Linked DNA regions of Homo sapiens. The protein of the gene in region 1 purifies or fractionates together with the protein of each later gene. This does not show direct contact. Each region holds a gene or a part of one and is shown on either strand. Other genes may lie near its edges.

Evidence for each region. Proteins that work in one complex are often made in the same cells at the same time.
Region 2: the proteins of NEURL4 (region 1) and ZNRD2 purify together in Homo sapiens (co-immunoprecipitation; 4 studies listed by BioGRID and IntAct, with this or other methods). This does not show direct contact.

Annotation. Positions count from the first base shown.
Region 1 is NC_000017.11:7,326,329-7,334,002, reverse strand, and holds the start of NEURL4 (neuralized-like protein 4), read left to right. Parts: upstream 1-4,667; 5' UTR 4,668-4,690; coding exon 4,691-4,972; intron 4,973-6,118; coding exon 6,119-6,563; intron 6,564-6,772; coding exon 6,773-6,838; intron 6,839-6,993; coding exon 6,994-7,292; intron 7,293-7,454; coding exon 7,455-7,566; intron 7,567-7,659; coding exon 7,660-7,674. UniProt on the Homo sapiens protein: Promotes CCP110 ubiquitination and proteasome-dependent degradation. By counteracting accumulation of CP110, maintains normal centriolar homeostasis and preventing formation of ectopic microtubular organizing centers.
Region 2 is NC_000011.10:65,566,178-65,572,388, reverse strand, and holds ZNRD2 (protein ZNRD2), read right to left. Parts: upstream 1,913-6,211; 5' UTR 1,898-1,912; coding exon 1,879-1,897; exon of another isoform or gene 1,786-1,878; coding exon 1,634-1,785; intron 1,504-1,633; coding exon 1,419-1,503; intron 999-1,418; coding exon 655-998; 3' UTR 501-654; downstream 1-500. UniProt on the Homo sapiens protein: Might play a role in mitosis. Antigenic molecule. Could be a centromere-associated protein. May induce anti-centromere antibodies.

The sequences.
Region 1 (7,674 bases):
GGCAGCAGAGTCTTGGGCTGATAGCCACTGAGGAAGACAGACTGTGGTAGAGAAGTGAGGAACGGGCTCTGGAATACAACCCCCTCTAGTCCCTGGAGCCCCGCCATCGCTAACCCTCGGCTTCAAGGATGTGCCTCCAGGTGACCAGGCCTGGCTCATCTTTGGCTCCTCTGGCTAGTTCTCCTGCCAAGCCTCTCTGCACAGGCCTGGGCTCTGGGTCCAGCATCACGCCTTGACTGCCACCGCTGATACTGATAATACCACCATTGTCATCCTCATCCTCTTCATTCTCCAAGGGCTGGTTTTTCTGAGCCTTGAGAAACTTCCCTTTGTCATAGTGTGCCTTGCGGCGCTTGTCAAAGTCGGTGGAGTCTGTGACCATGGTGAGAGCTTGGCTTTCCCACCGCACTCTTGCCAAAGGCTCGCTCCACCTCCCCCTTTCCATTCAATCCACAACCCTCATCTCATGTTGTGGGCGAAAGATTACCTAGGTGCCAAGGTAAGAGACTGAAGGCACAAACTGTTTCAGTATAATAAAGAAATAGTTAGAATAAGAATAGTCATAATACAAATTAGATATAGAGATGATCATGGACAATTATCAATCATTATTATAGACATTATTAATCATTAGCTTTTAATATTACTGTTTGTTGCATTACTAATATAACCTAGGAATAACCGGCGGGTATAGGGTCAGGTGCTGAAGGGACATTGTGAGAAGTGACCTAGAAGGCAAGAGGTGAACCTTCTGTCACGCTCGCATAAGGGCCGCTTGAGGGCTCCTTGGTCAAGCGGTAACGCTAGTGCCTGGGAAGACACCCGTTACTTAGCAGATCGCGAAAGGGAGTCTCCTTTCCTTGGAGGAGTCAGGGAACACTCTGCTCCACCAGCTTCTTGTGGAAGGCTGGATATTATCCAGGCCTCCCCGCAGTCATCCGGAGGCCTAAACCCCTCCCTGTGGTGCTGTGCTTCAATGCTCACGCTCCTTGTCCACTTTCATGTTCCTCCCGTACTCCTGGTTCCTCTTTGAAATTCGTAGTAGAGAGCAGTAGAAGAAATAGTGAAAGTCTTAATGTCTTTGATCTTTCTTATCAGTGCATAGAAGAAAACGCTGACGTATGCTGCCTTCTCTCTCTACTTCGGCTACCTAAAAGGGAAGGGCCCCCTGTCCTGTGATCACGTGACTTGCTGCACCTTGTCAATCACTTAGAAGATTCACCCTCCTTACCCTGCCCCCTTGTCTTGTATGCAATAAATATCAGCGCAACCAGTGGTTCAGGGCCACTACCGGTCTCCGCGTCTTGGTAGTCATCCCCCAGGCCCAGCTGCTTTCTCTTTATCTCTTTGTCTTGTGTCTTAATTTATTACAATCTCTCGTCTCTGCACACGGTGGGGAACACCCGCTAAGCCCCATAGGGCTGGACCCTACATCATGTATCTTGGAAAAGTTGTCTGCAGGCCCTGAGCTCCTGTCAGCACAGTCCTGGCGGAACCTGGGGCAGATACTGTCCATCATGGCAATCCTGAAGGGGCAGGAGACTAGTTGGGGGCATCAAGAGAAGAAAATAGCAATGGGGACAGGTGGTAAACGAGGCCAAATTGGCGGACCCCTGCCCCCATCCAGGCCTGATGGAAATTGTAGCACCTCCCACTGCAGGTGTCAGAAAGCAGACCCGCTGCAGACCTGAATTCAGGGCTGAGGGAAGGAAGAGGCCCCATAACCCGGCTGATCTCTGGCAGGACTCTTACCTCTCTGCCAGCACTCCAGGATTCACTGAGCAGGAGGAGCCGGCAGAGAGGTCCTCAAAACTGTCCTGCAGCCTGCAGAGGAGGGGGAAGCAGTGCCGGGAGGTGGGTGTCAGGCAGTATCCAGTCCCTGAGGCGCTCTGCCTCCTCCACCTGTCCCCTCCTTTAAATAGAGAAGAATCTCTGGACTGAAGGGTTGGGGCTGAGGGCTCAGCACCTGTGGTAGGGAGTGTTGGGCTCATCCACCATCATAAATCCATAGTCCTTGTCAGCAGGGCGGTAGGTGGCCAGGATATTCATCTCGTCCCAGTGCTGAGACTTCCTTCTGGGGCTGGGGGAGGAGACCTTCTAATGACCCCCCCATAGGCCTCCCTCATTTTCCCAGTCATTCAAAACAGGTTTTTTTTGTTTTTGTTTTTGTTTTTTGCTTTTGTTTTTGTTTTGAGATGGAATCTTGGCTCTGTTGACCAAGCTGGAGTGCAGTGGCACGATCACAGCTCACGGCAACCTCTGCCTCCCGGGTTCAAGTGATTCTCCTGCCTCAGCCTCCTGAGTAGCTGGGATTACAGGCGTGCGCCACCACACCTGGCTAATTTTTGTATTTTTAGTAGAGATGGGGTTTCACCATGTTGGTCAGGCTGGTCTTGAACTCCTGACCTCGTGATCTGCCTGCCTCGCACTCCCAAAGTGCTGGGATTACAGGCATGAGCTACCCTGCGTGGCATTCAAAACAGTTTTTGTTGTTGTTTGTTTGTTTTTTGAGATGGAGTCTTGCTCTGTTTTCCAGACTGGAGTGCAATGGTGTGATCTCAGCTCATTGCAACCTCTGCCTCCCCGGTTCAAGCCATTCTCCTGCCTTAGCCTCCCAAGTAGCTGGGATTACAGGTGCCTGCCACCACACCCGGCTTATTTTTGTATTTTTAGTAGGGACAGGGTTTCACCATGTTGGCCGGGCTGGTCTCGAACTCCTGACCTCAGGTGATCTGCCCACCTCGGCCTCCCAAAGTGCTAGGATTACAGGCATGAGTCACCACTCCGACTCAAAACAGGTTTCTTATACCTTGTTGAGGCTGGGGATGGGGTCAGACTTAATGATAATCACAGTCCTGTGCAGCCACGGTTTATGGGGCACCTGCTCTTCTCCCGAAAGCCTGGAACCTCGGACTTCCCACTCAATTGCCCTCACCTACTCTAACTCTTCATTCTTAAGGCTCTGCCCCTTTCCTTCTGGCTCCCACCCTCAGGTGTCCTGAACCCTCCCGACTCTGGGCTGGCTGCCCGCAGAGCTGGGCTCCTTACTTCTCCACATTGGGGGATTTCTGCATCAAGTTGGAGCTGTTCTTTCGTAGGATGCTCCGGGGCCGGTCCTGTTGGGAGTTTTGGGGGTTCAAGCAAGTTGGCCCAGAGTGCGGACTGCACCCGGGGCTGTTTACCTCTTGCCCTGCAGGTCCCCCAGGCCCGGGGCTGGAAGCCCTGGATACACTGGTTCGAGGCCCGGGGATGTTGAATCCACCAGGGTTCCTGCCAGACCCAAGGCTGTGGTTCGCAGCCTCCCTTGGGTGCTGACTGGGCCCGGAACCAAGGACCACTATCCCCCCGGAGGGACAGCTTGAACCAGTACTATGAGTTACGGAGCCCCCTGAGTGCACGTGGGGCCCAGAACCGTGAAACAAGACTACTCTGGAGGGCTGCCCAGCGCCTGCCTCGACTCCTGTGACCGCTGCGGGCACTCCTCTGGCTGCCCCTCCAGGGGAATCCCGGTTGAGGCCGCCAGCAGCCCCTAGGGACTCCACCTTCTCCATGGCCCCACTGGGGGGCTGCTCTCAGCGATCCTGACCCGCCTCCCGGCTCCACGTAGCCCCGCCCCTGGCCCCGCCCCCACCGCTGCCGGCCGGGGATGCTCGGGCTCAGTCCCGGGTCCACTTCTCCCCTGCTCCAGAGCTGCGGCGGGCGGAATCAAGACTATATAGAGACTCGGGCTGGGGGTCCCTCCGCTCGCCCCTTTCCTTTGTGTCCCACCCAAAGATTTTCTTTGTCTGGGCAATTTGTTCCCGCCCTTCTCCATCACCACCCTCATCCAAACCAGCCAATCCCAGTCAGGGGGCCAGGCCAGGAGCTTCGACTGTGACCTCACGGTCCTCCAGCCTGAGCTTGAGCTTCGGGGAGTTGGGCAGGGGGCTTGTTAATAGCTCTAAGGGAGATCTTTTGGGGTCATCAACGCTGTCGCTTGAAACGGCCTGTCGGGACTTCTTTAGACTCTTTGTGGTCTTAACATGGAATAGTTTGGTTGAGTTGGAGTTGAAGCTGGGCTTGACTTGAACTATCAGCGAGCTTCCCCCACCCCCGCCAGTCGGCTAGCTCAGCCAATCAGAAGAGGTGTGAGGCAAAGTGGAAGGACTGCCGCACTGTTGCAAGACACTTCGTCCTCAGTCGGGTGGCGGGAAGAGACTTTCACTACCGCTTCTCTGGGTCCTCCAGACTCGGCTCACGCTGCTTTGGAGCCTGCATCCCGAGGGGAGACACCCCCTCTTGCCGTAAAGCGAGTGCTTCAAGGTGTCACCGCCCCCTAGCGAGGGCGGGGTCGTCGGTGCCGCTGTCGCAAAGCAGAAAGTGTTTGGGCTCCAGCACCCCACCGTCGTAAAGATGCCTGCGGTGGGCGTGTCTTTCTCCCACTGTCGCAAAAGCTCCCTGCCCAGGTCTTCGTCCCCCTCGGAGCCGCTCCGTCACCTCGCTATGCCGTAAAGCGAGGCTCCCGACCCCGTGTCCTTCTGTTCTCATCGTGGTCGTCCCCAGCTCCTAGCGCGGGCTGCTTCATTGCCCGGCAGTGCCGTAAAGCATACCTGGCCTCAGCCCCCCGGTCGTATCCCTCGGACTGTCTGCCCGACGCGGTTGCCACGGTGCCGCCAAGCGCGGCTGTCGCGCTGCCCCGGTGTCAGCGGAGATGGCGGCAGGGTCGGGTGGGAGTGGGGGCTCTGGGGGAGGCCCTGGACCGGGGCCGGGCGGGGGTGGGGGCCCCAGCGGGAGCGGCTCAGGACCGGGGTCCAACGGGGGTCTGGGCAGCGGCGGGGAACTGCACCCGCGCACTGGGCGCTTGGTGAGCCTGTCGGCCTGTGGGCGTACGGCGCGGCGGCAGCAGCCGGGCCAGGAGTTTAACCACGGGCTGGTGTTGAGCCGAGAACCCTTGCGCGATGGACGCGTCTTCACCGTCCGCATCGACCGCAAGGTGCAGCGCTGGTACCGCGGAACAGAGATGTGGAGGGTGGTGGGAGGCGTCTAGAGGGAGACGGGGTAGGACAGCCAGGGTAGCCCACATTGCCGGGCACCGAGAGGGAACAGAAAGACCATAGAGCACCAGGGGGCGGTCAGGAAGACAGCATGAAGCAGAAACATTGAGTTTGAAGATGACATTAAGAGCTTGAGTTTTCTCAAGATCCAGAACCAGGGAAGGGACACGAGGGCTAACCCACTAGAATGGCTGGGAACAGACCTCCTGGTACAATTTCTTGGGCATGGAGGATGGAGAGATGTCAGAGATGTGATGGCAAGTGAAGAAAGATGCCAAGGAACGAACAAACGTAATCCCAGCACTTTGGGAGTCCGAGGCGGGCGGATCACTAGAGTCAGGGGTTTGAGACCAGCCTGGTGAACGTGGTGAAACCCCGTCTTTACTAAAAATACAAAAATTGGCCAGGCATGGTGGCGTGCGCCTGTAATCCCAGCTACTCTGGAGGCTGAGGCAGGAGAATGGCTTGAACCCGGGAGGCAGAGGTTGCAGTGAGCTGAGATCATGCCATTGCACTCCAGCCTGGGCAATAGAGTGAGTGAGACTCCGTCTCAAAAAAACAGAACAAACCATTGAAGGACAGAGGCTGTGCCAGAAAGATAGGTGAGGAGAAAGATCCAGGGTGAGGGAGGTGTGTGTGATTCAGTGAAGAGGCCAGGCTCACAGAAAAAGAACTTGGAAGGAGATTGAATCTGGGTAGAGCCTGATCTTTGGAGAGAATTAGGCCAGGGGAAAGGAATGAATGATACACAAGAGCAAGAGGTGTGGGTATAGGAAGTAGGAGAATTTGGATGGTTGGAGAGCCATAGAGACAAGGAAAGTTAGAGGAGGCAGGAGGTTGGAACCAAGGAATTTGTGCTTGGCTTGGAAAGGAGTGGTTTAGTAAACACTGAGTAGAGAGCAGAGTTGCTAAAGGAAAGCCCAAATAATTACCAAGACGGAGTCCAGAAAATCACTGTCTGCATCTCTGGATTAGTGTTCCAAGAGACAGAAAGCCAGCTAGCTGTCTGAGAGGTGGGAAGATATGGTGGCCTGTGGAATGGGGGGTGGCCCATTCTAAGCCTCTGTCCAATACCCCTATCCCAGGTCAACTCCTGGAGCGGCTCCATTGAGATTGGGGTGACAGCGCTGGACCCCAGTGTGCTGGACTTTCCAAGCAGTGCCACGGGCCTGAAGGGGGGCTCGTGGGTAGTGTCGGGCTGCTCTGTGCTGAGAGATGGACGCTCTGTGTTGGAGGAGTATGGTCAGGACCTGGACCAGCTTGGTGAAGGGGACCGCGTGGGCGTGGAGCGCACAGTTGCTGGGGAGCTTCGGCTCTGGGTGAATGGGCGGGATTGCGGTGTGGCTGCCACAGGCCTGCCCCCTCGTGTCTGGGCCGTCGTGGACCTTTATGGCAAGTGCACCCAGATCACCGTGCTACCCCCTGAGCCAGGCTTCAGCCCCCCTACTCCCATCCCCACACCTCCCCTCGAGCCCTTGGCCCCCACTGAAGACTCTGCCTTGGCTGAACAGGGGACCTCTGCAGATGAAGGTGAGAACACAGCTAGGGCAGTGGTGGTGGGGTGGGGACGGAATGGGGGAAATAGAGTGACAAGACAGGCTGGGTGTGGGCAGGGCCACCCTGATCCCCAAGTCTGTTGAATGGGAGAGCAGGAGCTAGAGGATGGGGGGTTCTCCTGGCTATGGGCCGTGAAGCAGGGACTGAACCCTTATTCCCCTCCCATCCCACCTGGTCCCCAGCCTTCATGGTGTCCCCAGCGCAGGCCCGGCCGGAGACGTTTCCTAACAGCCTTGAGTCGCATAATGGTGAGGGCTTTGGGGAGGCCCTGGGAAGGGGAGTGGGAAGTGAGGTGGACAAGGGAGGGCCCTCAGGAGAAGGGGTAGGGAGAGAGGCACCAGGTCTGGGGGTGTAGAGCCTCATCCCAACTTCCGAGCTTCCTTCTTCCATCCTGCTGCTATAGACTTTGCCAACATGGAGCTGTCTGAGGTGGTGAGCAACACCATCCTGTCTGCCTACAATGGAGGGCTCCTGAATGTGAACCTGAGCTCCCCACCGGCAGGGGAAGGCCTGGGATCTAGCGGTGCTGCCACCTCGCCCATTCTCACTTCCAACGATGCCCTGCTCTTTCATGAAAAGTGCGGGACCCTCATCAAACTCAGCAACAATAATAAGACGGCTGAGCGCCGGCGGCCCCTGGATGAATTCAACAATGGGGTTGTCATGACCAATCGCCCCCTTCGGGACAATGAGATGTTTGAGGTGTGCAAAGTCCTGTGGTCTGGTTGGCGCCTTATCCCTGGGAGCTAAAGATGGGGATTGACCCTTGGTGCTAGGAGGGTGGGCCCTGGGGAAGAACCAAGGGCTGAAGGTCCCTTTCTGCATTTACATTCCCTGCTTCTCCCTTCTGTCCCTCAATGCCAGATCCGTATCGACAAGCTTGTTGATAAGTGGTCAGGCTCCATTGAGATTGGGGTCACCACCCACAACCCCAACAGTTTGGAGTACCCAGCCACCATGACCAACCTCCAGTCAGGTACCAGCCCCGGGCAGGGGCGGGGGTGCAGGCCTGGTGTTGCTGAGGGGAAGGAAGCCCCGTACCCGAACCCAAGTGTCCACTATCACCCAGGCACCATCATGATGA
Region 2 (6,211 bases), on another chromosome or scaffold:
CGGAGGGGGGAAAAGGCTGAAGGGGGCAGGCGTGGTTTCTTCACGGTTCTTTTTGCTACCCCGTCTCCCCGCCGCGCCCCGCCCCGCCCCCACACCCAAGGAAAATGATCTAACAGTGGAGTCAGGAGACTGGCAAGTCCACACTTGGTGCCTAACGTGCCACCTGACGCTGGGGTCACCACAAACTCCTGTCGGTGTCTGAGTACCTGGGGTGGGCATGAGATGGGATAGGCTGATAGGGTCAGGATGCTCAGGGGAAGGAGGGGAATCTATCAAGGGGATCGGAACACAAAACCTCACTTCCAGGTGGGGAATGGACACCAGATGGCGGAAGAGGCTGCAGAGGTGCTGCCAGAGACAAGGCTAGGGTCCACCCCTCTGGCTGCTACCTTTGAAAAGGCTATGGCTTCTTCCTTAGAAAAGGGGCATCACATAGTCCTCTACCTACTCCCTCATCCTGACTGGGGAAACTGAGAAGAAACAAGCTCAACTCATCTCAGGGCGTCAAGGAGAGCAGAGTGGAGAGGTGAAGAGGCCAAAAGCTGGAAAAAGGTGAGTGGAGCTGGGGCTGGCATGCACACTTGGAACCAGGAAAAAAACAAACCACACAGAGGAACAGCTGTTTTTCTAGAGGGTTTTTCTCAGGGGCTTCTCTTAGTGCTGTAGCTGCTGCAGGCTGCGCAGGGCCTCCGCACATGCGCGGATAAGGCCACACAGCTGGATGCTAGTCTCCAGGGAGGTGCTAGAGCCCAGTTCAGCAGAGGCCCAGGTCAGCTTCTGCAAGAGGGCTGTCTGTGTGCAGGCCATGACATCTGTATTTGGAGGCACAGCAGGAGCAGGTGGCCCCTGGGCTGCCTTGAGTCCTGCTGCAGCTCCCTCACAGTGCTCCGGACGAGGTACTGGGGGCTGGGGCGCAGGTCGAGAGCCCAGGGGGAGCTCTGAGGCTGAGGCCAGCTGGTGCTCCCGAGCTTGGGAGAGGGCAGCCTGGGCATTCAGAGCTAAAAAGAGGAGAAAGTGGGTGGAATGGTCAGGATGCCTGGCCCACCTCAGCCCTGAGCCATCTCCTTTTCTGCTCTGCTCTTTCTGTGCTTGAGGTGTTTTCCCTGTCCCTCTATAAGGCAACTCATCCACTTTCTACTTTGTATCACATTTATGCCCTAGCTTCAATTCTCCATCAGTACTGGGCCTGGTTGAGCTCAGACTCTCGCGCAGTGGCTGGCACACAGGAGGTGCTTGGTGCTCTTATTGAGTTAAGGGTCCTCTTTAGAGCCTAAAGGAGAAATAATTTTACTTCTACCCCACCCAGAGACTCCACTGTCACCTCTCAGCCCTACTGTTCTCGGGCCTCTATCACCACTTAACCACGCTTCCCCCCTAAGCATATCCGGCCCCTCTCCCGGATTATTTTTTACTCTTACCGGGATTATCTTTATCCACGTCTGAGTCGAGTTCCTGACAAGCCACGCAGTAGATTTTCCGCTGTTTGTCTTGGAGGAGGATCGTCTACGGACCAAAAAGCACACGGGGCCGGAATGAGACGCCGGCAATGGGGTCCAGAGGGGAGGGCCGGGGAAGGGCTGAGTGGCCTGGCCCGCGGACCCATCCCCGGTCACTCGCCCGAGTCTCGCCTCACCCCGCAGTCCGCACACGTCTCGCCCAGCATGCGGTAACCGCGCAGCAGATAGTCGCCCATGAGCCGGGAGATGCGATCTTGCCGCTCCCGTCGCGCCTGCAGCACCTTCGTCTCCGCCTCAGTCGGGGGCTCCCAGGAGAAGTCGTCGACTTCTGGGGAAGAGAGGCATAGGGACTGGGGGTCTTGCCGGAGTGGGCTGCCTCCCGTACCTCACAGCCACAAACCCCTGCCGCCCAGGTCCTCACCAGCTCCGTTCAGGGCCATGTTGCCGTTGTCACCGCCGGGCTCACAGGAAGTGACGTCAAAGCGGAGCGCCCTCCGCTGCGGCTCCGCCCGTTCCATAGCTGCCGCGGATCAGGGCGGACGTGACGCCTTAGCGTGGTCCTCAGACCTCGCTGTGCCCGGGGTGGGGCGTGTCGGCTGCTACCGAGAACCTGCTCGGGGGACGCGTCCGTCAACCGGAATCCAGGGGACAGAAGCTTCCGACGCGCGAGGCCTCGGGAGGAGCGTCTCCTTGGTAACTCTCCTCCGGTCGCAAGACCTGGAAGTGGCCTCAGGGGGTCGCCCTTCCTGTCCGTCGTGGATGAAGGGGACCACTTGGCTTCAGAAATCCCCGCTGGCCTCCGCCTCCCCTGGGGTTTCCCTTTCGGCGCAGGCGGGGCAGCGGCGTCATCACAACCATCGCCACCCCAGTAATCACAGCGAGCGGCCCTTTGCGCACGCGTGGAGCCTTCTCAGGCCTCAGTACTTCTCACTTCGCCCGGCAAGGCTGGCCAGGAGGGGTGCATTCTCCCTTTCCGCGTATTTCAAGACCACTCCCCTTCTGCATGCTCGGTGTCCCAGTCTGTCTCCTCGCTGCCTCCCGAGGCCTGGAACTGAAGCAAAGTTCGCCCCGAAGCCGACCGTTCTTTGAAGTTGAAATCCTCAAAAAGCCTGCAGACTGAATAGCGCTGTACTGGGCACGCGCATTGCGCTTCCAGCCGCCCTTGGGTGCTGCGTGCTGGGCCGGGTCGGGTTGGGGCCTTCCTACATACTCTTGCGACCATTAGGCTCTTCTTGGGTGAGTTGCAAGTTAAAATTACCAGGGCTCTCTGAACATGGACCTTGGTGCTTTTTTTCTCTCTCCCTCTTCCGTGTTCTTTTTCAAACGCATCTTCTCCCTTATTAGATTCAGAGAAGCCAGACAGGGCAGGCAGGGGTCCTCAGATGTGCAGTCTGCAGGGCCTGAGGTTGTACACCAGGGCAGTGGAAAAGCAGCTAGGACTTGGACTTTCACAGTTACATCGACATTCTCCTCTTCCGGATGGCACATGCCCCCTCAATCTGACCTGAAGTCCCTTCCTCCTGGCCCCCTCTTCCTTCCACGTAGAACCCCTGGAACTGTCATTCTTGCTGCCTCCTGCTTACGTGGAGAGCCCTGTGTCCCTTTCACATCTCCATCTACCAGTCAGGCTCTTGGGCAGCAGCGTACCTGACTTAGGGCCTGTACCACAAGTCGTTTCTATCAGGCTGAATAGAGCCACCGTTTTTTGTGTGTTTGTTTGGTTTGGTTTGTATTTTTTGTAGAGATGGGGTTTCGTCATGTTGCCCAGGCTGGTCTCCAACTCCTGGACTCAAGTGATCCTCACACCTCAGCCTCCCAAAGTGCTGGGATTACAGCGAAGAGCCACAGCACCTAGCCTGAGGCTGACTAGAGGAACTGTCTCTGAACCATCTCTTGGACTCCAGCCTGTATGCACAGACCCCCAGGTTATTACCGTCTCCAGCTCCCAGCCCTACCCTGAATTCCTCAGTGCGCCGACTATGTCACCATCATGGCCAATATCCACTCAACTGTCTATTCTGCCTCGCACCTACAAAGAGCCTTACATGAGTCCTCTCACTTAATCTCTCCAATTTACTCCTCATGACAACCTTACATATCCCCACATAAGCAGGAAACTGAATAATTATTTTAAAATACAGTGTCGTTCTTGTACTAAAAACCATCTGGCTGCCCGATACTGTGGCTCACGCCTGTAACCCCAGCACATTGGGAGGCCGAGGCGGGCAGATGTCTTGAGATCAGGAGTTCAAGACCAGCCTGGCCAACATAGTGAAACCCCTTCTCTACTAAAAATACAAAAATTAGCCAGGTGTGGTGGCGGGCGCCCGTAATCCCAGCTACTCGGGAGGCTGAACCAGGAGAATTGCTTGAACCGGGAGGCAGAAGTTGCAGTGAGCCGAGATCACACCACTGCACTCCAGCCTGGGCAACAGAGTGAGACTCTATCTAAAAAAAAAAAAAGCCATTTGGCATCTCCCATCACACTTAGACAAAAATCCAAAGTCCTTGTTATGGTCTCCAAGGTCCTATAAATCTGGTCCTTGACCCCCCAAATCCAGACAACACATAGAGAGATGCACACACATCTCCCATCCTTCCTGCATCCCTCTTCTCCCACTGCTCAAGAGGACTCTTGTCCCTTTTCTCCTCTCAGGGCCTCTCACCATCTTAAGTTCCACTGTAGGGTGGACAAGACGCAGAACTGGAATGAGGCAGGCCTGGGTTTGATCCTGGATCTATTTACTGTATCACCTGGAGTAGTTTACTTCATCGCTGTGGACTTCAATTTCTCATCTGTAAAACAGGGCCAGTAGACCAGGTGCTGTGGCTCACACCTATAATCTCAGCACTCTGGGAGGACATGCAGGAGGATTGCTTGAGACCAGCCTGGACAGCATAGTAAGAACCCATCTCTAAGAAATATATGTATTTTTTAAATTAGCTGGTGCAGTAGCATGCACTTGTAGTCCCAGCTACTCAGGAGGCTGAGTGGGAGGATTGCTCCCAGCCCAGGAGATCCAGGCTGCAGTGGGCCATGATCAGGCTTCTGCATTGCAACCTGGGTGACAGAGCGAGACCCTGACTCAAAATAAAAATGGGGCCACTTATGCCTATTTGTTGCTTGTTTGTTTTTTGAGATGGAGTCTCTGTCACCCAACCTGGAGTGAAGTGGCGCAATTCTCGGCTCACTGCCACCTCCACCTTCCAGGTTCAAGCAATTCTTGTGCCTCACCCACTGGAGTGGGATTACAGGCATGCGCCACCACAGCTGGCTAATTTTTTTTTTTTTTTTGAGACGGCATCTTGCTCTGTTGCCCAGGCTGGAGTGCAATGGTGCGATCTCGGCTCACTGCAAGCTCTGCCTCCTGGATTCACGCCATTCTCCTGCCTCAGCCTCCCAAGTAGCTGGGACTACAGGCACCTGCCACCACGCCCGATTAATTTTTTTTGCATTTTTAGTAGAGACAGGATTTCACTGTGTTAGCCACGATGGTCTCGATCTCCTGACCTCGTGATCTGCCCGTCTCGGCCTCCCAAAGTGCTGGGATTATAGGCATGAGCCACCGCGCCCAGCCAATTTTTTAAATTTTTATTTCTAGTAGAGACGGTGTTTCACCATGTTGGCCAGACTAGTCTCAAGCTCCCGACTTCAGGTGATCTGCCCACCTCAGCCTCCCAAAGTGGTAGGATTACAGGCCTGAGCCACCGCGCCAGCTTCAAAGATGTTTATCTAGGGAACAGCTATGGAAGATGGAGATAGTGTCTCCCTCCAGAGCAAAGGACAGCCATGCTTACTGGCTTTGAGTTTCCTAAGCTTAGGGTCCTCTCCCACAATGTAATTCGCTCTGTGTGCCCACACTTGCCTGAGCCCATCAGCATCACCCCCATGGGACTTAGGGTCAAAAGGAACTAACGGAAATATGCTGGTGCTCATGCTGTTTGCTGCACAGCGATCAAGTCCTTTGTCTCTGACCCAGGACTCTCCTGTATTCTGCCAGCATTCTTGAACCTGACGGGCTACCTTGGTAGCTTGCAAGTGGGTAAGATCTCAGATGCTTCACAGTCCTTGACATAGAAGGTGCTCACAGGTGTTGGTGGTAAAACCTATTCGCAGCAGTCACAGTGGACAGGCCAGTGTCTGTGGAGCAATGGGCTTGGGCTCTTTCACACCCTTCCCTTGCCGACAATATATCACACCTTCAGCCAGGCATGGTGGCTCACAACTTTAATCCCAGCACTTTGGGAGGTCAAGACTGGCAGATCACTTGAGGTCAGGAGTTCGAGACCAGCCTGGCCAACATAGTGAAACCCCATCTCTACTAAAAATACAAAAACTAGCTGGGCATGGTGGTGCGAGCCTGTAGTTCCAGCTACTCATGAGGCTGAGACGGGAATTGCTTGAACTGGGAGGCGGAGGTTGCAGTGAGTGGAGATCCTGCCACTGCACTCCAGCCTGGGCAACAGAGCATGGAGTCAGGGAAGAGAAAGGAGGGAAAGGAGGAGGGGGAGGGGGAGGGAAGGGAATCACAGTTTCATGTGAGCCAGTCCAAATTGGTCCCTCCTTGTGGCACTGATGACATGGCTGTAGTTAGGCTCTTTTCTGGGTGATAGAGCACCCCACAGCAGCTCAGTCATGCACAGCTCAATTACAGCTCCCCCTGGGCTGGCTGATTTGGTGGGGATGGTTCACATGGCAACAAGTGGCCTATGCCATGTTGCCTGGCCTCTGAAAAACGTAACTTATCATTTGT